Homo sapiens: one gene and its partners. The protein of the gene in region 3 interacts with the protein of the main gene of each other region in a pairwise test. Each region holds a gene or a part of one and is shown on either strand. Other genes may lie near its edges. The genes, in order: TRIM69, OTX1, ETFDH and MYH7B.

Region 1 (7,033 bases), on a different chromosome or scaffold from region 3:
AAGGCAAATCCAGAGCCTTTAGATCAGTTTGGTTCCTTAGTCTTAAAAGCCAGAATCCTTGCTCAGGAGTTAGAGGACAGCTGCCCTTCCGAATGATGGATTCTCTGACAACTCCAACTGTCCATTTTGTCTTCTTTGCTACTTCTACTTCCCAGTACCACTTTCCAGAGGTGAAGCCTCTTGAGCCCAGTACAGCCACACTTGAGTCAAACCTCTCAGGATCATCAGGCATTATCTTCTTAATGTCACCATGCCAGACGCTGGTTTGGCTTTTGGAGAGCACCAGATTTGGGTGAGCTGTTTTAGGGTCCAGAGTTAGTGGAGACAGGCCTAGTAAGAAAATAAAAGAAAGCAGAGCATGGGAGAAAGGGGGGTAAACACAAATTCCCACAGTAAAAGATAGTATTTCATATTCAATAGTACTTTATCTCCCCATACACATAGACTCTTAGACAGGCAAGCAATTACTTATATGCTTTTTTTTTTTTTTTTTTTTTTTTTTTTTTTGAGGCAGACAAGGTTGCCCAGGGCTGGAGTGCAGTGGTGCGATCTCGGCTCACTGCAACCTCCGCTTCCTGGGTTCAAGCAATTCTCGTGCCTCAGCCCCCCAAATAGCTGGGATTACAGGTGTGTGCCACCACACCTGGCTAATCTTTGTAATTTTTTAGTAGAGACAGGGTTTCGCCATGTTGGCCAGACTGGCCTTGAACTCCTGGCCCCAAGCAACCCACCTGCCTAGGCCTCTCAAAGTGCTGAGATTACAGGCATGAGCCACCGCACCTGGCCACTTACATGCTTTTTATTGTTTGGGTATCCATGTTACTATATTCTAGACATTTTTATATTTAGGGTAAAAATCAGGGTTTACTCAGAAGTAATTTATGCTCTACTAAAGGAAACAATACAAATAATATAAACCTATACTAATAAATATAAGAAAATACAAATGCCAAAGGGGTAAAAATTAGGTAAGGATGTTCTAGGAAAGCTTTCTGAGGAAGGTAAGTATTCAGTTGTATATACATGAGATGTATTTAGGATGTTTTGAATAAACGGAAAGAAAGAAATGGATTAAAAACAGTCCCCTGTGTGGAAGAGAACACAAGAGCTTGCCTGTTAGACACAGGCAAGACTGAACTAACTGGTACAGAGTTTAGAGGACAATAGTGAGAGGTTTATTTTGGTTTAACAGATAATGAGATTTTTGAGATCTAGAGTGGTTTATGTCATTGCTACTCATAATGTGGTCCACATACCATGTGGTTAACAGTCTCGGACAAAGATAGTATAGAAATTAACAGTAAACTTTTAAAAACTTTCATAGCAAATTGACAGTAATTTTATGTCAGTTGAATCTAATAATTACAAAATTGGGCTTGTACTTTGTAATCTTTGCTTTTTTTAATTTTACTTTTTCAAGTAATTTATATTGTATTCTACAAAAGTATCAGTCCATGACAGATTGAGATTTTTTTGATTGGCCCTTCATCACAGATAATTTTACAAGCATTGGTTTAGACAATTCAAAGGGCAGCAGTATAAAAAAGAATATCTAAACTAAATGAAGAGAGGTTGAAAGCTGACCAGCAAGAGGATGACACAAATTCCAGATGTGAGATCATTGGACCTTGACATGAAATTTGATAAAGGAGACCTAATAGCTATGTGTGTGCACACCATGGACACAGATACATGTATGCATGCATTTGTTGTTATTGGATTTATTTATCCTTGGAAGCAGAATCAATCTAGTTTCTCTCTCTCTGTTTTTTTTTTGTTTGTTTGTTTGTTTTGTTTTGTTTTTTTTGAGATAGATTCTTGCTCTGTCCCCCAGGCTGGAGTGCAGTGGCACAACCTCGGCTCACTGCAACCTCCGCCTCCTGGGTTCAAGCAATTCTCCTGCTTCAGCCTCCTGAGTAGCTAGGATTACAGGCATGCACCACCACGCTCAGCTGATATTTTTTGTAATTTTAGTAGAGACAGGATTTCACCATGTTGGCCAGGCTAGTCATGAACTCTAGTCTAACTCTATCTTCTCAGAAAAGCCTGAGTCTTTTCCATTATCCCAGGGACTTCTCTTTCCAACAAGAGGCTTTGAAGAATTAAGAATCTTGAATTTTTCCATATAGGCTAAATCCCTATCCCCTTACATATCCCCATTCACTTTGGGTTGTTAATCTTTCTGATGTGAGGACTGGGTTTTCTTTGGAGGTACCATAAAGACTTTTTAGCAACGTTTTGGAATCCCACTCTGCTCTCTTTGCTAAGCCTCTGACACATCTCTAGCTAGTTCAGCCTGCACTGGCTCTGAAGATTCCCATGAGTCAGCTTTTTGTCCTCTCTTTCCTTCTCATGCCACGTTCATATAACGAAAAGTTCTGTCAGCTCCACCTTCAAAATATATCTTGTGCCCAAACACTTCTGACTACTTCCAGAAATATCACTGGCCTGGAACTACTGCAATAGCTTTTTACTCTTCTGTTTCCTCTCTTGCCCATCTGCACCCTATTCTACACATATCATGAATGAGATCAAGCCATTTCCCTGCTCAGCATACTCTTATGTTTACCATCACATCTGAGATAAAATCCAGAGTCCTTATAGAGGAAAAAAGAGCCACATGATTTACCTACCTCTCTACTTCATCTCCTACCACACTTTCCCTCATTTACTTTGATTCATCCACCCTTGTCTTTTGGCAGTTCCTTGAACATAATGAAGATCATTCCTACTTCAGGGTCCTTATAATTTCTTCCCTTGTCCTAGAATGCTTTTTCCCCATATGGTTCACTCCACATTATTTGGGCATTTGTTCATGCAAATATTTTAAATTGAAAAATTCCCTAAGCTAGAGTAGGCAAACTACAACCAACAGGTCAAATCTGACCCACTGCCTACTTTGTAAGTAAAGTTTTATTGGAGCACATTTATGACCATTCATTTATATGTTGTCTGTAGCTTCTTTTTCACTACAAGAGCAGAGTTAAGTAGCAGCAACAAAGACCATACACCTGCAAGGCCTAAAATATTTACTCTTCAAACCTTTACAGAAAAGTGCCAGCTCCTGCTCTAAAGCAACAGCCTAATTTATAAGGCTGGCAGAAAAGGAGAATATATGGATCTACAAAATAAGCAAAGACTTAGAAATAAAAAGTATGGAATATATTTTACAAAGGTCTGACCACAGTTACCATAGAAAAACAATTTCCCACTCTGTATAGAGGGAGAGTATATGGATAAATAATACATTATTAATAAATAGTCATATATTAAATAAATCTCATTTGGTTTTCTTGATGTAAAATTATACCAAAAATTTAAAAATCAGTTTGCATTTTAAAAGATTGCTAGAAGTGAAGTTTGGCTTTACAGAGCAAAGTATACAGGAAGAAAAACTCTGTCATACCAAGGCAGCTACAATTTGCTAAGCAGAGTAACACAGAGGAGGGAACTTCACAGAAACTTACAAACATCTACAAAGGGATTCTCTCAAGGCTGTGGCTGAGTACTAATCTGCACATGCATGCAGTGAAACTCGTCAAGGCCAGAGAAAGAACCTCCAGAAATCAATAGACTGAACAATTTCTGGAGCTCACACAAGGCTGGGAATAATTTTCAATCTTGCCAACCAGAATGGAAAAATGTCGTAATATGTCAACGTCAGGTAGGGTAATCAGAAGGGTATATTACTTTAGAAAATGGGCTAAGTTAGCCCTAGATTAAAGGCTGCTCTTGAGCCACTCTAACTAGGCTTTATTTAAGCCTCAGAAGGAACAAAATGATGTCATACCATGTTAACTGCATGCCAGAGTTAAATTCAATAGAACTGAAAGAACTACAACAAAATCCAGCAAATACAAAATTCACCAATATGAATTCATCAGTACAAACAATATGAAATTCATCATATTTGGCATCCAGTAAAAAATTACCAACCAGAAGAGACAAATCTCCAGGGCAGCAAAATTTCAAATAATTTACATTAATACACTACCCTCAGGGAGAGGGAGCATAACTATCCCCTCCTTAAGCGTGGGCTGTGCACAATGACTGCCTTCCAAAGTATACAAGTATAGAAGGAGGGAAAAAGAGTACAGTGGAGAAACCTGACAGACACTTCCTCAGCCAGGTGATTAAAGTCAACATCAATAGTCATAAATCATGTTGACGGTATGAACACTTAATGTGATGTGATGACAATGACACTTTAATGCTACTGTCTTCCTCTCCCAATTAATAACCCAAATTTTATGAGGAAAACATCAAACAAATTGCAATAGTGCAGCATCCTTACAAAATATATGACCAGTACTCCTCAAAACTATCTAAGTCATAAAAAATAAGGCAAGCCTGAGAAACTGTCACAGCCAAGGGGCACCTAAAGAAAATGACAACTTAGTGTAATGTGGCACCTTAGATGGAAACCTAAAACAGAAAAATGACATTAGGTAAAAACTAAGAAAATCTAAAGGAACTATGGATTTCAGTTAATAATGTATCAATTTGGTTCATTAGTTGTTAAAAATGTTAAATCTAAGATGTTAATAATAGAGAAAAGTGAGGATGGGGCATATAAAAAACTCTATACTATCTTCTCAGTTTTTCTGTAAAATTAAAAAATCTAAAAGTGTCCTAAAAAATAAAGCCCATTAAAAAGAAAAAGATTACTAGCCATACAAAGCAGCAGGAAAATATGACTCTCAGGAGAACAATCAAACAATAAAATCAGGCCCAGAAATGACAATGATGATAGAATTAGCAGACAAGGATATTAAAATGGATAAATGTCTTCCATTTTTTCAAGAATGTAGAGGAAGGCATGAACATGGTGAGAAGAGATAAGAAAGATATAAAAAGACCCAAATGAAACTTCTAGAAATGAAATGTATATAAAATGAAAATATCTTGAACAATATTAACAGAAGGTTAGACCATGCAGAAGAAAAGATGAGAACTTGAATAACAATAGAAACCATTTAAAATAAAGTGTGAGGTGAAAAAAGGCTAAAAAAGTACTGAATATCGATGACATGAGACAACTTGACAATATCAAGTTGTCTAAAATATGTAAAATTAGACTCCAAGAAGGAGAGGAGAAAAGGGGTTGGTAAAAAAGTATTTGAAGAAATACCAGCTGATATTATTCAAAATTTGATGAAAATTATAAACCCTTAGATCCAAGCAGCTCAATGACGCACAAGCAGAATAAATACAAAGAAAATCACACCAAGACCACGTATAATCAAATTGATGGAAGCAAGTGACAAAAAGCAAGTCCTAAAATTAGCCAGAGATGGCCAGGTGCGGTGGCTCACGCCTGTAATCCCAGTACTTTGGGAGGCCGAGGCGGGCAGATCACGAGGTCAGGTGATCGAGACCATCCTGGCTAACATGGTGAAACCCCATCTCTACTAAAAATGCAAAAAAATTAGCCGGGCGTGGTGGCGGGCACCTGTAGTCCCAGCTATTTGGGAGGCTGAGGCAGGAGAATGGCGTGAACCTGGGAGGCGGAGCTTGCAGTGAGCCGAGATTGCACCACACTCCAGCCTGGGTGACAGAGTGAGACTCCATCTCAAAAAAATAAATAAATAAAAATAAATTGAAAAGGCAAGCCATGGAGTGAGAAAAAATATTTAAGAAACATATATCTGATAAAGGATTTGTATCCTTTACAACTTAATAATACAACAATTTAACAAAAATATAGACAAAAGTTTGAACACAACCAAAAAAATATATGAATGGCAAGGAAGCACCTGAAAGGACGCTCAACAGGATTGCTCATTAGGGATATGCAGCCGGGCACCACGGCTCATGCCTGTAATTTCAACACTTTAGGAGGCTGAGGTGGATGGATCACTTAAGGCCAGGAGTTCAAGATCAGCCTGGCCAACATGGCAAAACCTCATCTCTACTAAAAATACAAAAATTAGCTAGGCATGGCAGTGCGCGCCTGTAATTCCAGCTACTGGGGAGTCTGAGGCGCAAGAATCACTTGAGCTTCGGAGGCAGAGGTTGCAGTGAGTTGAGATGCACCACTGTACTCTAGCCTGGACATCAGAGTGAGACTCTGTCCCACCCTCCCACCAAAACAAGAGATATACAAATTAAAACCACAATAAGATACTACTATACATTCAATAAAATGGTTTAAATTAAAAAGATTGACAATATCAAGTTTTGGAAAGGATATAGAGAAACTGGGATTTTCACTAATTGCAGGATGGATAAAACTACCATGGACTACCCCATGTCCATCAACTGGGAAATGAATAAGTAAACTGAATAAATAATCATGATTATTGATACATGGAACAACATAAGTGCTCAAAAAGCATTATGCGGCCTGGCGCAGTGGCTCATACCTGTAATCCCAGCACTTTGGGAGGCTGAGGCGGGCAGATCACGAGGTCAGGAGATCGAGACCATCCTGGCTAACAGGGTGAAACCCCGTCTCTACTGAAAATATAAAAAAATTAGCCGGGCATGGTGGCAGGCGCCTGTAGTCCCAGCTACTCGGGAGGCTGAGGCAGGAGAATGGCATGAACCCTGGAGGCAGAGCTTGCAGTGAGCAGAGATGGCACCACTGCACTCCAGCCTGGGCAACAGAGCGAGACTCCATCTCAAAAAAAAAAAAAATTATGCTAAGTGAAAAAAACCAGAAGACACAAAACACTACATAATGTATGCTATCACTTAGACAAAAATTTAGAAAAGACACATTTAAAGTGAAATAAAACATGTCAGTGAATGTTAGAGGCTGAGAGTAGAAGGAAGAGATTGATTTCAAAGGGGCATGTAGGAACTTTTTGGAGTGATAAAAATCTTCTATATTTTGATTATGGAGAGGTTTACCTAAGTGTATATATACATCAGAACTCATCAAATTGTGCCCTTAAAATTGGATAATTTTACTCTATGTTAACTATATCTCAGTATAGTTGATTTTTCTTCAATGTCAATTACCTGGAAAAATTTGCGATTTTTCATTAAATCAGGGATATATTTGTGATTTCTCATTAAATCAATAACC
Region 2 (4,535 bases), on a different chromosome or scaffold from region 3:
AGGTTGTCTGCTGCCAACATGCAGGACACGGATCAGTTTTTTGTCGTTTTGCTTTCTTTTCCTTTTTGGCTCAGCTCTGAGAGCATTACAGAGCTATCCTTTCCCGCCTCCCGACCCTCTTCCCCTCCCCCTCTTCTTTCTGGTGCAGGCAATTAGGGTGAAGAAATCAGTGCCAGGCTCCTGCCTCTGAAGAGAAAGGAATTGCTTCGGGAATTGAGTCCTGACACCTGTCTCTGTCCTGGATGGCGAGGGGGGATGCGGGGTCAAAACGCCTGGGGGAAGAGGCCAGGCTGACGCGGAGGGGCGTGGTGGGGGTGGGGGGAGACACTCCCTAAGCGAAAGTTTCTGGGGACTTCTCTTGCCAAGTCCTCCCGCCTCATCCTTTGGCCTCCAGCTTCACGCAGGTCATTAACACGCGGGTTATTAACACGGAGTTTCCCTCGCTTTTAGCCCCCCGAGACCAGGACCTCGGGCTGGAATCAGAAGAGCAACACTGACAAGCCGTTCATTAATTTGCATTTATTTTCGGGAAGTAATGTAGATAAAGAGGAGGAGGGGGACTGCCTTACATTTCAACAAGTAATTTGTGATCTTCACATCAGACAAATCAAATTTACAAATTACTTTCCCACCTACTGGACGAAGCGGCCAAAGCCAAAATTGATACACAGGCGCGCGGGCTCTCCGCAGATTTCGGAGAACGAAGGTGCACTAAAAACTCACTAGACAAAACAAGGGTGTTGAAAGAGAGAAGCCGACAGAGGAGTTGGAACTGGGTTTGGGGCCTGGGTTTGTTTGTTTTTCCCTAATGCTGTACTTTTACGGATTTTGTTTTGTTTTGTTGTTTTGTTCCCTGGTTTTGGTTTTCTTGTTTTAGGTTTGTAAACTGGAACTGCGACCCTGTGCTTAGACCGGGTGAGGGGGTCAGCCCTGCGCCCCTGCCCAACCCCCACCTCTGTACCCTGACTTGTCTGTTTCCTCCACACTTCGGATATCCCGCGCCCAGCTTCCTGAAACCAAGCGGTTCTCTTCAATAAATACACAGAGGGAGAAGATGTGAAGAGGGCAGGGCAGCTTTGCAACAACTGAAAAAGAAAAAGCGCCATTGATTGAGGAAGAGCAGAAGGGGGACGGACAGAGGGAAAATATTTTTTGCTTTTGTTTTTTATATATGTGTATATATATATGTATATATATATATATGTGCTGTATATATCTTAAAGTTCTGTTTCCTGGGTGCTAAGACAAGATATGTTCAGTTCAACCAACCAACAGCAACTAAAAAGTTTAAGTGGTCCCTGGAACGGACCTGACTATGTACAGCGTTCCCGCCGAGGCGGAAGCTTGAACCAGTCCAGCGCAGGGCGGGGCGGGATGCGGCTCTGTGCGCGGAAGGCTGGGGACGCGCTCCTCCGGCGGGCCTAGCCCTGGCGCGCCCCAGCGCACTCCGCTGGGGCGGAAGAAACGCCGGGAGGCTCTGGCCGGCAGGCGTGGAGCAAAATCGAGGGCAGCTGAAGGGGCAGCAGTCTGCGCGGGAGGAACTCTTAGTGGTTTTGATTTGGAGTAGTGTGCGGGTGCTCCAATGGGCAGAAACACGCCAGTTAGTGACTCCAGTGTCCAGAAAGAATAAATTAAAGTGTTGGGCTCAAACAGCGGATCAGAGCGCAGAGCCTCCGAAGGCTGCAAGTGCTTAATAGCTGTCCAGAAAGACTGGAAGGGGAGGCTTAAGAGTTTAGTAGGGGCTGAAGGGGGGAAATAATACATCTCTCCTGTATAGAATGTGTAGGCCAAGCCGAAGCACCGGTCCCCCCATCCAAGGGGCAGGGTGGGTTTGCACATCCCCCCAAGCAAGTGGCACAAAAATGGGGGCGGCAGTGCAGGCAATGGACATCTTTTTGGGGGGTGAAAATTCAGTTTTGGAGAAGACGAGGCAAAGGCGGGCGGTGCAGCAGCAGCAACAGGATCGGGACCACGGAGGGCGCAGGTAGTTGCGTTTCTTCTCCTCTTTCATTCCTGGGCTCACAAGACCTGGAACCGCCATGAGGCTTGGTCCTTATAGTCCAGACAGTCGGGGGAGTTGAAGTTGAGTTTCCAGGCGGAGGAAGCAGCAGCGGCGCCAGGCTCCTTGTAATCCAAGCAGTCGGCAGAGTTGAAGGCAAGCCCAGAGCCACCGTAGCCTTGGTGGTGGTGGTGGTGATGGTGGTGGTGGTGGCCTGAGGACTGGCTCAACGGGTGGTGCGCATGTGGGTGGTGATGATGGTGGCCCGCCATGGAGGAGGGTGCCATGGGGCTGAGCTGGTGCGGGTGGTGATGTGAGTGCATGGGCGCTAGGTATGAGCTGCAGTCCACGCCGCCAAAGTAGGAAGAGGAGGGCGTAGGGTAGCCTTGGCCGTAGCTGCCGCCCTGGCCGTAGGACATGGGATAAGAGGCTGCTGCGGTGGCGGCGCCTGCAGCTACGGAGCGCTGCATACACGAGGTGTTGCTAGGCGCGGCCAATGGCTCCGGCACCGACACGGACGCGGGCGCTGAGCCTGGCGAGATGGAGGCCGGGCTCCAGATAGATGAGGCAGCTGGTGTACTCAGCGACGACGCGGCCGCCACCGGGTTCCCACCTAGTCCCGCAGCCGCTGCAGCCGCTGGGTTGGCGGAAGAGCTGGACGCCGAGCTAGAGGACGAGGCAGAGCTGGACACAGCTGGCGGCGTGAATTGGCCACTGCTTTCGGAGCCCGAGCTCTCCCGCACTGGAGAGGACTTCTTCTTGGCTGGGCGGCTCTTGGTTCCGCTCCCGCTCTGCTGCTGCTGGCGGCATTTGGCGCGGCGGTTCTTGAACCAGACCTGCAGTGGGCCGGATGGGGGAGAGTGGGTCAAAGGGAGCTAGGGGAGCTTGTTGCTCCACCGCCCCGCGGACCCAACTCCCGGTCCAGAATATCGCAATCCTTTCTCACCGAGGCCTCCGCCCCTTCCTGTCTCTGGCCTGGCCAGACCCTGCCCCCTACCTCGGTTCCCAGCTCCTCCACCCTCCCCCATCCTTCTGCTCAAAGCCCCTCCTCAGCTGGCTCCAGAGCAGGGATGCGCACCTCCCCACCCCTACCGCAACTCTGCCCTAGGGCGGAATATTTCAGTCTGCCCAGTCAGAAGTTCTGCCATCTCTAAATTGCTGCTGTTGGCTGCTTCCGTGTATGTTTGGAGGCCCCGTGTGTGTTTGGAGGCCCAGTTTTCTACTAACAGAGCTCAGGCAACAGTGGAGAGGTACAGAGCCGAAGAGTGTGGAACAGTCACCAAGTCTAGGGCCTGAGCCGTTTCACTGAGCAGCTCCTGGAGGCCAGAACTGGGCAGGGCGAGTATTTGGGTGGGGGTAGGAGCAAGGCCAGAGGCTAAACAGAGGTAGTACTTGAGGGACTCGGGAAGGAAGCCTGGGTGGGATTTCGTTGGCCCTTTGGCTCCAGGTGGGGAACCAAATGGAATGGTTACTCTTCTAGGAGAGCCCCAGCACATGGCACTGCATTCCTGGTCCCCCTTCTCAAGCTTTCGAGTAAAGGAGGCGAGACTCTTGAGGAGAGTTCTGAGTTAGAATCCGAACGTTATCATCGGAACCCTTTCATCTCAAAAACAGAAATAAGAAAGCCGGCAGCAGGATTTTGCACTTAGCATCCTCTGTAAGCAGAGGAAGCGTCTAATGAGACCCAGGCAGAGCACCAGGCTCCAGCCAATCTCCGCTCTTCCATTTCTAGGATTCCCGGGGTGGAAGACAAGGGCAGAGGCAGAATTCAGGCCTCTAAGGGAAACTGCCAAGTCCTGGGGCAGGCGAAGAAGCAGGGGCAAGTGTCAGGCCCGCAGGGCGCTTTACATTCGGGAGCTTCCCTAGTCCTCCGGCAATTCTAAAAAGTACTTTCGATACCGACACCGAAGGCGCCCTAGGGCTAAAGGCGGAATCCAGGGCTCTAAGCCATTTCCTTTAACTTTTGCCCCCTTTCCTGGCTGGGGCCCAGCGCTAGGGGGAGTCCGAGAGCGGCTGCCCAGTCTGTAAGCCCACCCCCACAGGATGGTCTCCTCAAGAACTACTCAAGAGCCTTCCTAGACCTTCCCCGAGCAGCCTCAGCTCCCCTACCCAGACCCTGGAGCCCGGGGAGTGCGCACCTGGACTCTAGACTCCGGCAGGTTGATCTTGAGCGCCACCTCCTCCCGCATGAAGATGTCAGGGTAGCGAGTCTTGGCGAAGAGCGCCTCGAGCACGTCCAGCTGTGAACGCGTGAAGGTGGTGCGCTCCCGCCGCTGCTTCCGCGGAGTGGCTGCGGGGACACGCGGGGGCGCCGCGGGTCATTGGTGGCCACGTGGACCCGCGATAGAGGACTCGGGCAGGCCCCTGGCAGGCCCAGATCTCGGCCTTCGCAAAAGAAAGCCGAACTGGGAATAAAAGAAACTCCCTCGGGCGGCCGAGCCTGAGAGGCCACAGGTGGGAGAAAGTGCAGATGTGCGACTAGAAGCCAGTGTCTCCAAGATTCGAGGGCTGCCCCTCTCTATGCCTCTCAGAGGTT
Region 3 (7,033 bases):
GAATATTTCCTGTACATGGAAGCATATACTATGTTGTCTTTTTGTGACTGGCTTCTTTCACATAGCATATTGTTTTCAAAGTTCTATGTGGTAGCATATATCAGTATTCAATTTCTTCTTATTGCTAAATATTTCATTATTTGGATATATCACTTCTTACCATTTATTGATCAACATTTGGGTTGTTTCTACTTTTTGGCTGTTATAAATAATTCAGCTGTTGGTCAGGTGTGGTGGCTTACACCTGGAATCCCAGCGTTTTGGGAGGCTGAGACGGGCATATTGCTCGAGCCCAGGATTTCGAGATCAGCTTACACAACCCAGTGAGACTGCTTGTCTACAAAAAAATAGAAACAATTATCCGGGCATGGTGGCATGCACCTGTAGCCCTAGCTACTCAGGAGGCTGAGGTGGGAGGATCACTTAAGCCTGGAAAGTCAAGGCTTCAGTGAGCCATGATCACATCACTGCATTCCACCCTTGGTGACAGAGTGAGACCCTGTCTCAAAAAAAAAAAAAAAAAGTCAGCTAGGAACATTCATGTGCAAGTTTTTGTGTAGAAGTATGTTTTCATTATCTTAGGGATAGACTTAGGAATGGGTCACATGAAAACTCTATGTTTAACCTTTTGAGGAACTGCCAGACTGTTTTTCAAAGAGACTGCATCATTTTTGCATTCCCCCAGGAGTGTATGAAGGTTCCAATTTTTCCACATCCTTGCTAACTCTTGTTATTGAAACCGCCCAACAGGTTCTCCTTGCCCACTACCCAGACAGAGCCAATTTATCAAAACAGGAGAATTAGAATAGAGAAAGAGTTTAATTCACACAGAGGCGGCTGTACAGGAGACCATAGTTTTATTACTCAAATCAGTCTCCCCGAAAACTTGGAGACTGGGGATTTTAAGGATAATTTGATGAGTAGGGGGGTCAGAAAGTGGGGAGTGCCAATTGGTCAGGTCAGAGGTGAAATCACAGGGAGATGAGTTTGTCGTCTTGCACTGAGTCAGTTCCAGGGTGGGAGCCAAACGACCAGATGAGCTAGTTCATCGATCTGGGTGGTGCCAGCTGATCCATCAAGTGCAGGATCTGCAAAATATCTCAAGTAGTGATCCTAGATTTTACAATAGTGATGTTATCCCCAGGAGCAATTTGGGAAGGTTCAGAATCTTGCCACCTCCAGCTGCATGACTCTTAAACCATAATTTCTAATCTTGTAGCTAATTTGTTAGTCCTGCAAAGACAGTCTGGTCCCCAGGAAGGAAGGGGGTTTGTTCTGGGAAAGGGCTGTGATTGTCTTTGTTTCAAAATTAAACTATAAACTCCCAAAGTTAGTTCAGCCTACTCCCAGGAATGAACAAGGACTACTTGGAGGTTAGAAGCAAGATGGAGTCAGTTAGGTCAGATCTCTTTCACTGTAATAATTTTCTCAGTTATAATTTTTGCAAAGGTGGTTTTATTATTGCTTGACTTCTCGACTATAGCCATGCTAGTGGATGTAATAGTACCTCATGTGGCTTTGGTTTGCATTTCCCTGATGGCTAATGCTGCTGAGCATCTTTTCATGTACTTATTGGCCGTTTGTATATCATCTTTGAAGAAGTGTCTATCCAGATCCTTTGCCCACTTTTTAATTGGATTATTTGTCTTTTGTTACTAGATATAAGAGTTCTTTCTGTATTCTAAATATAAGTCCATTATCGGATATATGATTTGAAAATATTTTCTCCCATTCCACGGGCTATCTTTTCACTTTCTTGATGGTATCCTTTGATGCACAAAAGGTTTTAATTTTGATGAAGTGCAGTTTAACTGTATTTTTTGTCGTTGCTTGTGTTTTTGGTTGTTCTATCAAAGAAACCATTGCCTAAACCCAAGTGTTGATGAAAAAGCCAAACTCCATAAACTATTTGAAGAGATTAATTCTGAGCCAAATGTGAGGACCATGACCCACGATACAGCCTCAGGAGGTCCTGAGAACATGTATCCAAGGTGGCTGGGTTACAGCTTGATTTTATACATTTTAGGGAGAAAAGTTACAGGCAAAGACATTAATCAATACGTGTAAGGTTTACATTGGCTTGGCCTGGAAAGGCAGGACATCTCAAAAGTTCACGAATTTGTGTTGGGCCACATTTAAAGGCATCCTGGGCAACATGTGGCCCATAGGCTGCAGGTTGGACAAGCTTGCCTTAAAAGGTATCAGACTCTTAGTTAAATCTCTCCTAGATCAGGAAAAGGCCTAGAAAGGGAAGAGAATTCTCCACAGAATGTAAATGTTCCTCACAAGAGACAGCTTTGCAGGGCCAATCCAAAAATTATGTCCAAGAAATATATTTTGGGGTACAATACATTGATTTCCTCTAGGGCCTGTTGTCATGTGATGTTATACCAGAGTCAGGTTGGAGTTGGTATCTTATTGCTACAAAGAGTCTGTTCTGTCAGTCTTAGGATTTCAATATTAATGTTAATGCTGGTCAGTTATGTCTAAACTCCAAAAGGGAGAGGGTATAATGAGGCATGTCTGACCCTCTACTTACCATCATGGCATGAACTACTTTTTTGGGTTTCTTTGGAATCCCCCTGGCCAAGAAGAGAGTCCATTCAGTGGTTGGGGGCCTTAGAATTTTGTTTTTGGTTTACACAAGGTCACAAAGATTTACACTCATGTCTTCAAAGAGTTTTATGGTTTTAGCAAATATAGGGTTTGATCTTTCTTGAGTTAACTTTTTTTATCACCATAATCTTTTTAACTTTTTATCTTGAAATAGTTTTAGATTTACAGATAAGTTGCAAAAATAGTACTGAGAGTTCCCATATGCCCTTTGCGGAGCTTCATGTCTTATGTAACCATAGTATAATTATCAAAACTAAGAAATTAACATTGATGAAATAAAGTTAATTAAACTACAGATTTTATTCAGATCTTCTTTTTCTGTTCCAGGATCCAGTCCAGGGCACAAGGTTGCCTTTAGTTGGCAGGTCTCCATAGTCTACTTCAATTTGACAGTTCCTCTGTCTTTTCTTGTGTCCCAAGACCTTTACAGTTTTGATATGTACTGGTCGAGCATTTTGTAGAATGTCCCTCAATCTGAGTTTGTCTGATCATTTCTCATGATTAGACTGAGGTTAAAGATTTTTGGGGATAAATACCACAGAGATAAAGAACCCTTTTCACCACATCATATCAGGGATACATGGTATCAATATGTCTTATTGCTGGTAACATTAAACTTGATCACTTGCTTAAAGTGATATCTGCCATATTTCTCTACTGTAAAGTTAACATTTTTCACTTTCCATTCTCTACTTGTTAGAAGCTACTCAATAAGTTCATCCCACATCACTCAAAGGGAGGAGAGAATTGAAGAATTTATGGATATATCACCATCTTTTTTTTTTTTTTTTGAGACAAGGTGCTTGTTGCCCAGGTTGGAGTACAGTGACGTGGTCCTAGCTCACTGTAGCCTCGAATTACTGGGCTCTAGTGATCATCGTACCTCAGCCTCCTGAGTAGGTGGGACTGCAGGTGCATACCACCACACCTAGCTAATTTTTTTACTTTTTATTTTTTATTTCTGTAGAGAAGAGGTCTTGCTATATTGCCTAGGAGGATCTTGAACTCCTGGCCTCATGCAGTCCTCCCGCCTTAGCTGAGATTTACAGTCATGAGCCACTGTGCCCAGCCAACCATAGTCTTCTATACTTTGAACCTACCCTAATAAAATCTTCGATCAAATATAATTCATTTTGACCTAGGGAGCAGAGTATACTTTTTTTCTGAATGGCTTTCTAGCTATCTCTGCACCATTTAATGAGTAACCATTTCTTCTCCCTAATTTGAAATGGTATCTTTATTATATACCATATACCTATGTGTATTCTATTTCTGAACTCTTTATTCTTTTTTTAATTATTCTATCCCTTCTCCTATAACAGACTTCTAATGAATATAGCTTCAAATATAAGTTTCTATATCTGTCAAGAGTGGTTTCATGGGAGGATTCTTTGTCTTTTTTTAATGATAGGGACGATTATCAAGATGAACAGAGCCTGAGAAGGGAGTCAAAATTGAAGCTCAGAAGGGATGGTATCAGATGGAGGAATGTCTCTAGACAACGGGAGAGATAAGCCTTCTCATCCAGCTAGAAAGATTAACCCCAGTGGAGAAGAATATAGTCTGTTTCACTATATTCATTGAGTACAATCAACGGGAGAAAAGACATCTCTTCTGCTATAAACTGAGATAATGAACAAAGTATGGGCACAAATACAGATTATATTAGAAGTTACTGCCAAGGAGTTGAGAAAATTCCCATCTAATTGCTTCTGTCTTTATGAGGTTTGATGCTAGGGTACCTGCCCTGGATAAAGGAAAGAAGAGGTGGAGTTGAAGGTTTGAGGACAACAGAGAAGGTTCAGTGAACATTTTTGCAGATAAATCTTTGCATATTTCTGTTCATTTCCATAAAATACTTTTTGCTGACTCAAAAATGTATACATTTTTAAGGATATCAGAAGATACTGTGGCCAGGTGCAGTGGCTCACGCCTATGATCCCAGCAATTTTAGAGGCTGAGGCAGGCAGATCACTTGAGGCCAGGAGTTCGAGACCAGCCTGGCCAACATGGCAAAACCGCATCTCTACTAAAAAAAAAAAACAAAAATCCAAAAATTAGCTGGGTGTGGTGGTGCACACCTGTAGTCCCAGATACTCTGGAGGCTGAGGCGTGAGAATCGCTTGAAACCAGGAGGCAGAGGTTGTGGTGAGCTGAGATTGCACCACTGCACTGCAGCCTGGGTGACAGAGTGAGACTCTGTCTCAAAAAAAAAAAAAAAAAGAAGAAGAAAAAGAAGAAGATACTGCCTTAAGAACCTGACCATAAAACAAAGTTTGTGCTTAAAGCCATTGACCTAACACGGTGATTATACTACTCCATATTACTCTCAAAGTGTTCAGCTTTCATGACTAATCCATAGTTAAGCCTGACATGAGCTAAATTGAATAAATTTGCTTATTAGTTTTAAAATATTTAAGATTTGAAAACATTGCTTTATGAGAAAAAGCTATTCAAAGTGTTCACCTAGGAAAGATTATAGTATATTTCACTATACTCATTGAGTATAGTCATTCACTTATATTTTTTCAGTCTACTGAGGAAAACTAATTTTAAGGAAGATAATAATTTTCGTAATTTTTGTGCAGCATATCAGTGCTTTCATGCCTTAAAAATTAAGAAAAATTATCTACCTCTATGTGCTACAAGATGGTCTTCAACTTCTACTGTGCCTCGAATTACTACCCATTATACTATTTATCCCCGGGATAAGGACAAGAGATGGGAAGGTAAGTAATAATTTGTGTACAATTCCTGAGACTTTTCTGGATACTTTGTTTTCATTTTGTGGAGGAGAGTATTAATATTTTTCATAATTTAAAAACATCTAATAATATTTTGTGGCTTTACCAAGTCACATGCTGCATAATGACCCTTCAGTCAACAACACGACAATTATAATGGTAATCCCTTGACATTATAATGGAGCTGAAAATTCCTATCACCTAGTGACATCTTTTAGAACATAGCTTCCAGACCATCGTAGCTCAACACATTACTCAATTATTTGTGGTGAGTCTGATGTAAACAAACATACTCTACTGCCAGTTCTTTAAAAGTCTACCATATACAATTATGTACAGTACATGATACTTGATAATAAACGACTGTTACTGGTTTATGTATTTACTGTATTATACTTTTATCATTATTTTAGAGTGTACTCTTACTTAATTTTTTTAAAAAGTTAACTGTAAAACAGACACAGGCAGGTCCTTCAGGAGGTATTCTGGAAGAAGCTACCATTTGCATAGGAGATGACAGCTCCATGCGTGTTATTGTCTTTGATGACCTTCCAGTGGGAGAAAATGTGGAGGTGAAAGATATTGATGATCCTGACCCTGTGTAGGCCTAACTAATGTGTGTGTTTGTGTCTTAATTTTTAATAAAAGAGTTTAAAAGGTAAAAGGAAAAAAAATTTTAAAAAGAAAGAAACTTATAGAAAAATGATATAAAAACCATTTTTTGTACAGCTGTACAATGTGTTTGTGTTTTAGCTAAGTGTTATTACAAGAGAGTCAAAAAGTTTAAAACATTTAAAAGCTTATAAAATAAAAACATTACTGTAAGCTAAGTTTAATTTACTGACGAAAAAATTTTTTTATAAATTGCGTGTAACCTAAGCATACAGTGTTTATGAAGTCTATAGTAGTGTAATGTCCTTGTCCTTCACATTCTCACTGCTCACTCAGTCACTCACCAAGAACAGCTTCCAGTCCTGTAAGTTCTATTCATGGTAAGTACCCTGTACAGATATACCATTTTTAAATATTTTATACTGTATTTTTGCTGTACTTTTTCTGTGTTTAGATGTGTTTAGTTACATACATACTATTATAGTTGCCTACAGTGTTCAGTATAGTCAGTCACATGCTATATAGCTTTGTAGCCTAGGAGCAATAGCCTATACCCTGTTGCCTAGGTGTATCATAGGCTGTTCAATTAGTTTGTGTAAGTATACTCTATGATGTTTGCAAAAGGGCAAAATTGCCTAACGATGCATTTCTCAGAAAGCATTTCTGTCATTAAGTGACTTGTGACTGTATTTTACACAAGTAAATATTTGCTAAATGTATAATAATAAATCTCAAAGCCAAGAATTAGTTTATGGAAACTGAAATAAAGTATGTACTGGAACAGAACCTAAGAATATAATCATACTAATACAGTAATATGCTTAATATAATTATTGTGCAAAACACAGGGAGAATTTCCATAAATAATACTCTAAAGCACAGTGGATATTTTTTAACTGTCATGTGATTTATCATGTGATTATTGGGTTATATTAATCCCAGAATTTTTATTTCTCCCAGGAGTGAACATGGAAAGGTTTGCAGAAGAAGCAGATGTTGTAATAGTTGGTGCAGGCCCTGCAGGGCTCTCTGCAGCTGTTCGTCTAAAACAGTTGGCTGTG
Region 4 (7,033 bases), on a different chromosome or scaffold from region 3:
GCCCGTGTCAGAGATCCAGAGCTAGCTGGCACGTCAGCCCAGGCCGCTGACTCCAGAGCCCCGTGGCTTAACAGCCCTGGTGTCTTCCGGGAATTGCAGAGGCCACCAGGACATGGGGGGCTCATGAGCCCCTTCACTGGAGGCAGGCCTGTGGGACTGTGGGCCTCCCCTCACCCTCACCTATAAAGCAGAGCTATTAGGAGCTACTCCATGAGGCTGCTGGGAAGGCAAAACAAGTGAACTGTGCTGAGTGTCACCATTTGTGACGGGCAGCACTGAGCCACCTTCACAGCTTGGCTGCCCCTCCCTAGGGATGCGCTGTTCACCATCCAGTGGAACATCCGTGCCTTCAATGCCGTCAAGAACTGGTCATGGATGAAGCTCTTTTTCAAGATGAAGCCGCTGCTGCGCTCGGCGCAGGCTGAGGAGGAGCTGGCGGCCCTGCGGGCAGAGCTGCGGGGGTTGCGAGGGGCGCTGGCTGCGGCCGAGGCCAAGCGCCAGGAACTGGAGGAGACGCACGTCAGCATCACCCAGGAGAAGAATGACCTGGCCCTGCAGCTGCAGGCTGTGAGTCAGGGTTCCCCTTGTGACCGGGCGTCCCCAGCCCCGAGTACCCCTGGCTGCTCTGAGGGATAGTACAGCGAGACCCATGGGGCTCAGGCCTTATGTCTCTCTGTTCCAAAGATGCCATGAGATGAGGCCTCCATGTCCCAGCCTCACCACCCCAAGGCCTCGTCTGGCACGTTTCCTGGCACTCTCCCCTCGTGCCACCTTGGCCTCCCGCTAAAGCAGAGGAACCCCAGCTCCCCAGCTCTCCCCTCCCTGCAATCCCTGAAACCAAACAGACCCATGCTCTCTTCTCTGGTTAAGGGCCATGGGAACCCAGGTGGCAGGTAACAGGGTGATAGCCAGAGAGCACAGATCAAAGGTCTGGAATCTCCCCAGGTCCACAGAGCAAGCTTTCCTGCCTTCGGCACATGGCTTTGTGTATCAATTGTGTGCCAGGCTCAGGCTAGTGCAGGAGGAACGTTGGTGGGAAGACAGAGATGGCCCTGTGGTCACAAAACTCACCTGCTAGTGCAGGAGACTGTGACGCAGCTGGACAGTAAGGAAATGGGGGGTAAGGATACCTGAGCCCTTCCAGGGACTGCCTCCAGGAGCCCGTCCGTGGCTGTGCAGAGGCTGCTGCTGCTCACCCTGCCCCTCGGAAGGCCTCAGCCCAACAGCGGGGCAGTGAGCAGCGGGCTTCCCTCTCAGAACCCTTGTTTGGGCCTCACTCTGGGCCGCCCCGCACTTCTAACTTTCCCCTCTTAATGCTCTGGTGTGTCCCTCTGCGCTATTGCCCTTCCATGCCCAAGAGCGAGTCAAGACATTCCTGAGTTCTCAGAGCACAGCCAAACTTTGCTACAGAGGCAGTTTCCTCTCCAGGGCCTGGCCTGGTGTCTCTCTGCTGGTTTACCTGGCCCTCCCCCAACCTGGCCCCGTTCCGTGTGCCCTCCAGGAGCAGGACAACCTGGCAGATGCCGAGGAGCGCTGCCACTTGCTGATCAAGTCCAAGGTGCAGCTGGAGGGGAAGGTGAAGGAGCTGAGTGAGCGGCTGGAGGATGAGGAGGAGGTGAACGCTGACCTGGCCGCCCGCCGGCGCAAGCTGGAGGACGAGTGCACGGAGCTCAAGAAGGACATTGATGACCTGGAGCTGACACTGGCCAAAGCTGAGAAGGAGAAGCAAGCCACTGAGAACAAGGTGTGGGCCGGGCCAGCTGTGGGGAAGGGCCCTGAGCCAGGGGCCAGCTTTGGGGCCAGGTGGCTGCAGGTCCCACCCCGGCTCTGCTAAGCCTCTGCTTTCTGGCCCTGGGCATGTCACTGCCTTTCCTGGGCCTCAGTTTCTTTATCTGTCAAGTGGGGTTAGCAGCACTTACCCCATTAGGGTAGGTGGTGATGTGTGTAATTGGCCTTTACTGAGCACACGCTCCTAGGCCTTGCACACGGTAGGTGTTTAGCACATGCTGGCAATCCTCATCCATCCCGGAGTGCAAGCCCCTTGAGGGCAGGAACTCCATGTCCCCAGCTCGGCATCCCGCAGGTGACTTCTGCCCTTGAGCCCTCGTGATGGCCCCTGTGGTTCCCAGTGCTGGAGGAGGGACTCCATTACACAGGAGGGAAAGTGAGGCAGGGGTAGGCAGCTTAGGTTCTCACAGGTGCTCACTGAGGAAGCCGGGACTAGGAGGCAGCTGCCCTGAGCACATGCTAATACTGCACATGGCTGGCATCTGTGGATTTCTCACCAGGCCAGGTGTGGTGCTGAGCACTGCGGGTGCATCCACTCGTGAATCCTCATTACAACCCCATGAGGAGGGTCCTTCCCTCAGGCAGAAGCGGTGGAGGCTCGGAGTCAAGTGACTTGCCTGAGTCCCATAGCTGGAAGGGGCACTTGCTCTGACCTGGTGTGGTGTGGTGGCCGCTCAGAGTGCGGGGAAGGGCGTCCCCATTCTGGCCCTGGCCCTGGCACAGGTGAAGAACCTGACGGAAGAGATGGCTGCGCTGGACGAGTCAGTGGCCCGGCTGACCAAGGAGAAGAAGGCGTTGCAGGAGGCCCACCAACAGGCCCTGGGTGACCTGCAGGCCGAGGAGGACCGTGTGAGCGCGCTGACCAAGGCCAAGCTCCGGCTGGAGCAACAGGTGGAGGACGTGAGTCAGGGCCACCCCGAGACTGGGTGGCGGGGCCGGGGTGCCGGCTGGCTTGGGCCATGGCTGACCCCTGCTGTGCCTGCTCTGCAGCTGGAATGCTCCCTGGAGCAGGAGAAGAAGCTGCGCATGGACACGGAGCGGGCCAAGCGCAAGCTGGAGGGTGACCTGAAGCTGACGCAGGAGTCGGTGGCTGATGCTGCTCAAGACAAGCAGCAGCTGGAGGAGAAGCTCAAGAAGTAGGTGTGGTGGGGCAGCAGGTGGGGGCCTTCTGAGCCTGCACCTGGCCCTTGTTCCCTTCTGGATTCTTGTGGTTCCTGCGGCATTGCAGAGGTTAAGGGTGGGGGTTGACAGATGGGGCACTGGGGTGCAGGGGTAGTGTCTTGCCCTCCCTGTACTGAGGGCCCTAGCCAGGGTCCAGGGCTGAGGCCTCAGGGCCCAGTGCAGCAGGTGCATGGGGTGAGGTCCCTCAGGGCCTGAAGGGGACTGGGGGGCGTTATGGGGTCCCAGGCGGGTGGGTGGGAGTTAAGGCCTGTGCTGGCCACCCACTCTGTGGCTCCCAGGAAGGACTCCGAGCTGAGCCAGCTGAGCCTGCGGGTGGAAGACGAGCAGCTCTTGGGGGCCCAGATGCAGAAGAAGATCAAGGAGCTGCAGGTGCGTGGGGATCGGGTGGGTGAGGCCTGGGGTCAGAGGCCCACAGAGGTGACAGCTGCCCCACGTGCCCACCCCAGGCTCGGGCGGAGGAGCTGGAAGAGGAGCTGGAGGCAGAGCGGGCAGCCCGGGCCCGCGTGGAGAAGCAGCGTGCAGAGGCGGCGCGGGAGCTGGAGGAGCTGAGCGAGCGGCTGGAGGAGGCAGGCGGCGCATCCGCGGGGCAGCGCGAGGGCTGCCGCAAGCGGGAGGCGGAGCTGGGGAGGCTGCGGCGGGAGCTGGAGGAGGCGGCGCTGCGGCACGAGGCCACAGTGGCGGCACTGCGGCGCAAGCAGGCGGAGGGCGCGGCGGAGCTGGGGGAGCAGGTGGACAGCCTGCAGCGGGTGCGGCAGAAGCTGGAGAAGGAGAAGAGTGAGCTGCGCATGGAGGTGGACGACCTGGCTGCCAACGTGGAGACTCTGACCCGCGCCAAGGTGTCCGTGCCTTCCTCACCCCATACCCACCCTGACTTTAAACCAATCCCGATCCCAGCAGCCAATACTGTTCCCACACCAGCCTCCACCCAGTACCTTATCCTGAGCCCTGACCTCTTCACCTGGTACACAACCCTCATTTCTCAGCCTCCTACCAGTCCTGACCTTAAGCCGTGACTCCCAAGCCCTGTTCCCTGACTCCAGGTCATTTCTGATCCAGCATCTACTTCCAGCCTCAGACCCTTGAACCAGCAGTAGTTGTGACCCTAGCCCTTGACTCCTGAACTCTGACTTAATACCTGTCCTCTCTTCCTGTCCTGAACCCCAGCACCCTAGCCTTAACCCCTGACCTTTCTACCACATAATCCTGACAGCTGACCTCTGACCATTGTCCCCAGGTGACTCCGCAGCTACCATCCCAACTCTCACCCTGACCCACTGCCCTGGGACTGGCCCAGCCCTGTCAGTTCTGACACCTGTTAAGCCCAGCAGTAGAATCTCTTTCCCTGACTTTGAACTTGGGGCTCTGCTCTCCCTTTGATTCCTGGGCCCACATCTAGCTTACCAGTCTCTGATCCCAGATCCTGCCATCTGATGCACAAACTTGTTCTGACATCTAACTCCTGACCCCTGACTCCCAACCTGGGATCCTAGGCCAGTGCAGAGAAGCTGTGCCGGACCTATGAGGATCAGCTAAGCGAGGCCAAGATCAAGGTGGAGGAGCTGCAGCGGCAGCTGGCGGACGCAAGCACGCAGCGTGGGCGACTACAGACGGAAAGCGGTGAGGCTGGGGCTCAGCTGGCCACACCAGGCAGGGCTTTGGTGCAGCCCTCACCAGCCTGACCTGTCCGCTCGCCTCTTTGCCTGCAGGGGAGCTGAGTCGCCTGCTAGAGGAGAAGGAGTGTCTGATCAGTCAGCTGAGCCGTGGAAAGGCCCTGGCCGCCCAAAGCCTGGAAGAGTTGCGGCGCCAGCTAGAGGAGGAAAGCAAGGTGGGCTGGCACCGGTGACCATGGAGTGGGCAGGTGGGCACCAGAGCCACTGGGCTGCACTAACGCTGAGGTCACTGGTGTCCCTGCAGGCCAAGAGTGCCCTGGCCCACGCCGTGCAGGCTCTGCGGCACGACTGTGACCTCCTGCGGGAGCAACACGAGGAGGAGGCTGAGGCCCAGGCTGAGCTGCAGCGGCTGCTGTCCAAGGCCAATGCCGAGGTGGCCCAGTGGAGGAGCAAGTACGAAGCAGATGCCATCCAGAGGACCGAGGAGCTGGAGGAGGCCAAGTGAGTGCTTTGCTGGCCAGGCCACTGCCATGCAGAGCTTTATGCCTGTGCCTGAGCCCCGCTGAGGGTGGGTGAAGGGAGCTGCTGGGGCTGTTCTCCCTCCTTCCATGGTCCACACCTTGTCTGGTTCCATGGCCTAGAAAAAAGCTGGCACTGCGGCTGCAGGAGGCAGAGGAGGGCGTGGAGGCTGCCAACGCCAAGTGCTCATCGTTGGAGAAGGCCAAGCTGCGGCTACAGACAGAGTCAGAGGATGTAACCCTGGAGCTGGAGCGGGCGACCTCAGCAGCTGCTGCGCTGGACAAGAAGCAGCGGCACTTGGAACGGGCACTGGAGGAACGGCGGCGGCAGGAGGAGGAGATGCAGCGGGAGCTGGAGGCGGCACAGAGGGAGTCCCGTGGCCTGGGCACCGAGCTCTTCCGGCTGCGGCACGGCCACGAGGAGGCACTTGAAGCCCTGGAGACGCTCAAGCGGGAGAACAAGAACCTGCAGGGTAGGACCTGCCACACGCCAGGGCCAGGGTGCTGCCCTGGGGTCGGAGCAACTTTGAGTTATGGGGGTGCCCTGGTGGGGCCACCCTGGAATCAGGGGTGAGTGGAGTGACCTGGGTGGGAGTACAAGCCATGGGGGTGGCCTCTCAGCACCCTGTCCACTGCAGAGGAGATCAGCGACCTCACAGACCAGGTGAGTCTCAGTGGGAAGAGCATCCAGGAACTGGAGAAAACCAAGAAGGCGCTGGAAGGCGAGAAGAGTGAGATCCAGGCTGCACTGGAGGAGGCAGAGGTCAGGGGCTGGCTGCAGGGGTGGGTGGACACTGACCTGCTGCTCCACTGGCCATCCCCCCCCCCCACCCTACCCTGCCTGCTCTGTATCCACAGGGGGCCCTGGAGCTGGAGGAGACCAAGACGCTGCGGATCCAGCTGGAGCTCTCCCAGGTCAAAGCAGAAGTGGACCGGAAGCTGGCAGAGAAAGACGAGGAGTGCGCTAACCTGAGGTGTGTCCATCCTTCTCCCGTCCCCACCTCCCGAGAGCAGAAGGGGAGGGAAGCAGTGTGTACTCTGCTCTCTAGTCTGTCCCTCCCATGGGACTTTGAGGTCCGGGTTGCTGTCTCCATTCTAGCTGTGAACCTCGGAGATGCTAAAGGACTTGCCCAAAGTCACACAGTGGGGGTGGAGCCAGTCAGTCCACCTCTGTCTGCCTGGGCCTCACTCTTGTCCATGAACTTGCTCTGATGGGCCACAGGCAGTCACAAGAGACTTTAAATCGGGGAGGGGTGACTCATTTGTTCTCAAAATGGGTTCGTTTCCAACGGTCCTTGGGCATTTGTAAGGACAGGTATGCCCTTACGAGACCCCCTTTCATGCCACCCTCCTCCCATAGGCGCAACCACCAGCGAGCTGTGGAGTCCCTGCAGGCCTCCCTGGATGCAGAGACACGGGCCCGCAATGAGGCGCTGCGGCTCAAGAAGAAGATGGAGGGTGACCTCAACGACCTGGAGCTGCAGCTGGGCCATGCCACCCGTCAGGCCACAGAGGCCCAGGCTGCCACGCGGCTGATGCAGGCACAGCTCAAGGAGGAGCAGGCAGGGCGGGACGAGGAGCAGCGGCTGGCAGCTGAGCTCCACGAGCAGGCGCAGGCTCTGGAGCGCCGGGCCTCGCTGCTGGCTGCGGAGCTGGAGGAGCTGCGGGCTGCCCTGGAGCAGGGCGAGCGCAGCCGGCGACTGGCAGAGCAGGAGCTTTTGGAGGCCACCGAGCGCCTCAACCTTCTGCATTCGCAGGTGGGGACAGGAGTCCCTGGGGACAGAGCAGGTGCAGGCCTGCTGGCTGGCTGGCTCTGAGACTCCTCTTCCCCTCAGAACACAGGCCTCCTAAACCAGAAGAAGAAGCTGGAGGCGGACTTGGCCCAGCTGAGCGGGGAGGTGGAGGAGGCTGCACAGGAGAGGCGGGAGGCTGAGG

Evidence for each region.
Region 1: the proteins of ETFDH (region 3) and TRIM69 interact in binary tests that used the Homo sapiens proteins (3 or more experiments, as listed by UniProt).
Region 2: the proteins of ETFDH (region 3) and OTX1 interact in binary tests that used the Homo sapiens proteins (3 or more experiments, as listed by UniProt).
Region 4: the proteins of ETFDH (region 3) and MYH7B interact in binary tests that used the Homo sapiens proteins (3 or more experiments, as listed by UniProt).

Annotation. Positions count from the first base shown.
Region 1 is NC_000015.10:44,760,528-44,767,560, reverse strand, and holds part of TRIM69 (E3 ubiquitin-protein ligase TRIM69), read right to left. Parts: intron 331-7,033; coding exon 1-330.
Region 2 is NC_000002.12:63,053,801-63,058,335, reverse strand, and holds the end of OTX1 (homeobox protein OTX1), read right to left. Parts: intron 4,405-4,535; exon of another isoform or gene 4,290-4,404; coding exon 4,138-4,289; intron 2,836-4,137; coding exon 2,020-2,835; 3' UTR 505-2,019; downstream 1-504. UniProt on the Homo sapiens protein: Probably plays a role in the development of the brain and the sense organs. Can bind to the BCD target sequence (BTS): 5'-TCTAATCCC-3'.
Region 3 is NC_000004.12:158,675,263-158,682,295, forward strand, and holds part of ETFDH (electron transfer flavoprotein-ubiquinone oxidoreductase, mitochondrial isoform 1 precursor), read left to right. Parts: intron 1-5,204; coding exon 5,205-5,345; intron 5,346-6,845; exon of another isoform or gene 6,846-6,932; coding exon 6,933-7,033. UniProt on the Homo sapiens protein: Accepts electrons from ETF and reduces ubiquinone.
Region 4 is NC_000020.11:34,993,835-35,000,867, forward strand, and holds part of MYH7B (myosin-7B), read left to right. Parts: intron 1-311; coding exon 312-567; intron 568-1,501; coding exon 1,502-1,744; intron 1,745-2,511; coding exon 2,512-2,688; intron 2,689-2,778; coding exon 2,779-2,924; intron 2,925-3,248; coding exon 3,249-3,339; intron 3,340-3,416; coding exon 3,417-3,806; intron 3,807-4,460; coding exon 4,461-4,587; intron 4,588-4,676; coding exon 4,677-4,795; intron 4,796-4,884; coding exon 4,885-5,081; intron 5,082-5,221; coding exon 5,222-5,571; intron 5,572-5,736; coding exon 5,737-5,861; intron 5,862-5,956; coding exon 5,957-6,072; intron 6,073-6,458; coding exon 6,459-6,855; intron 6,856-6,933; coding exon 6,934-7,033.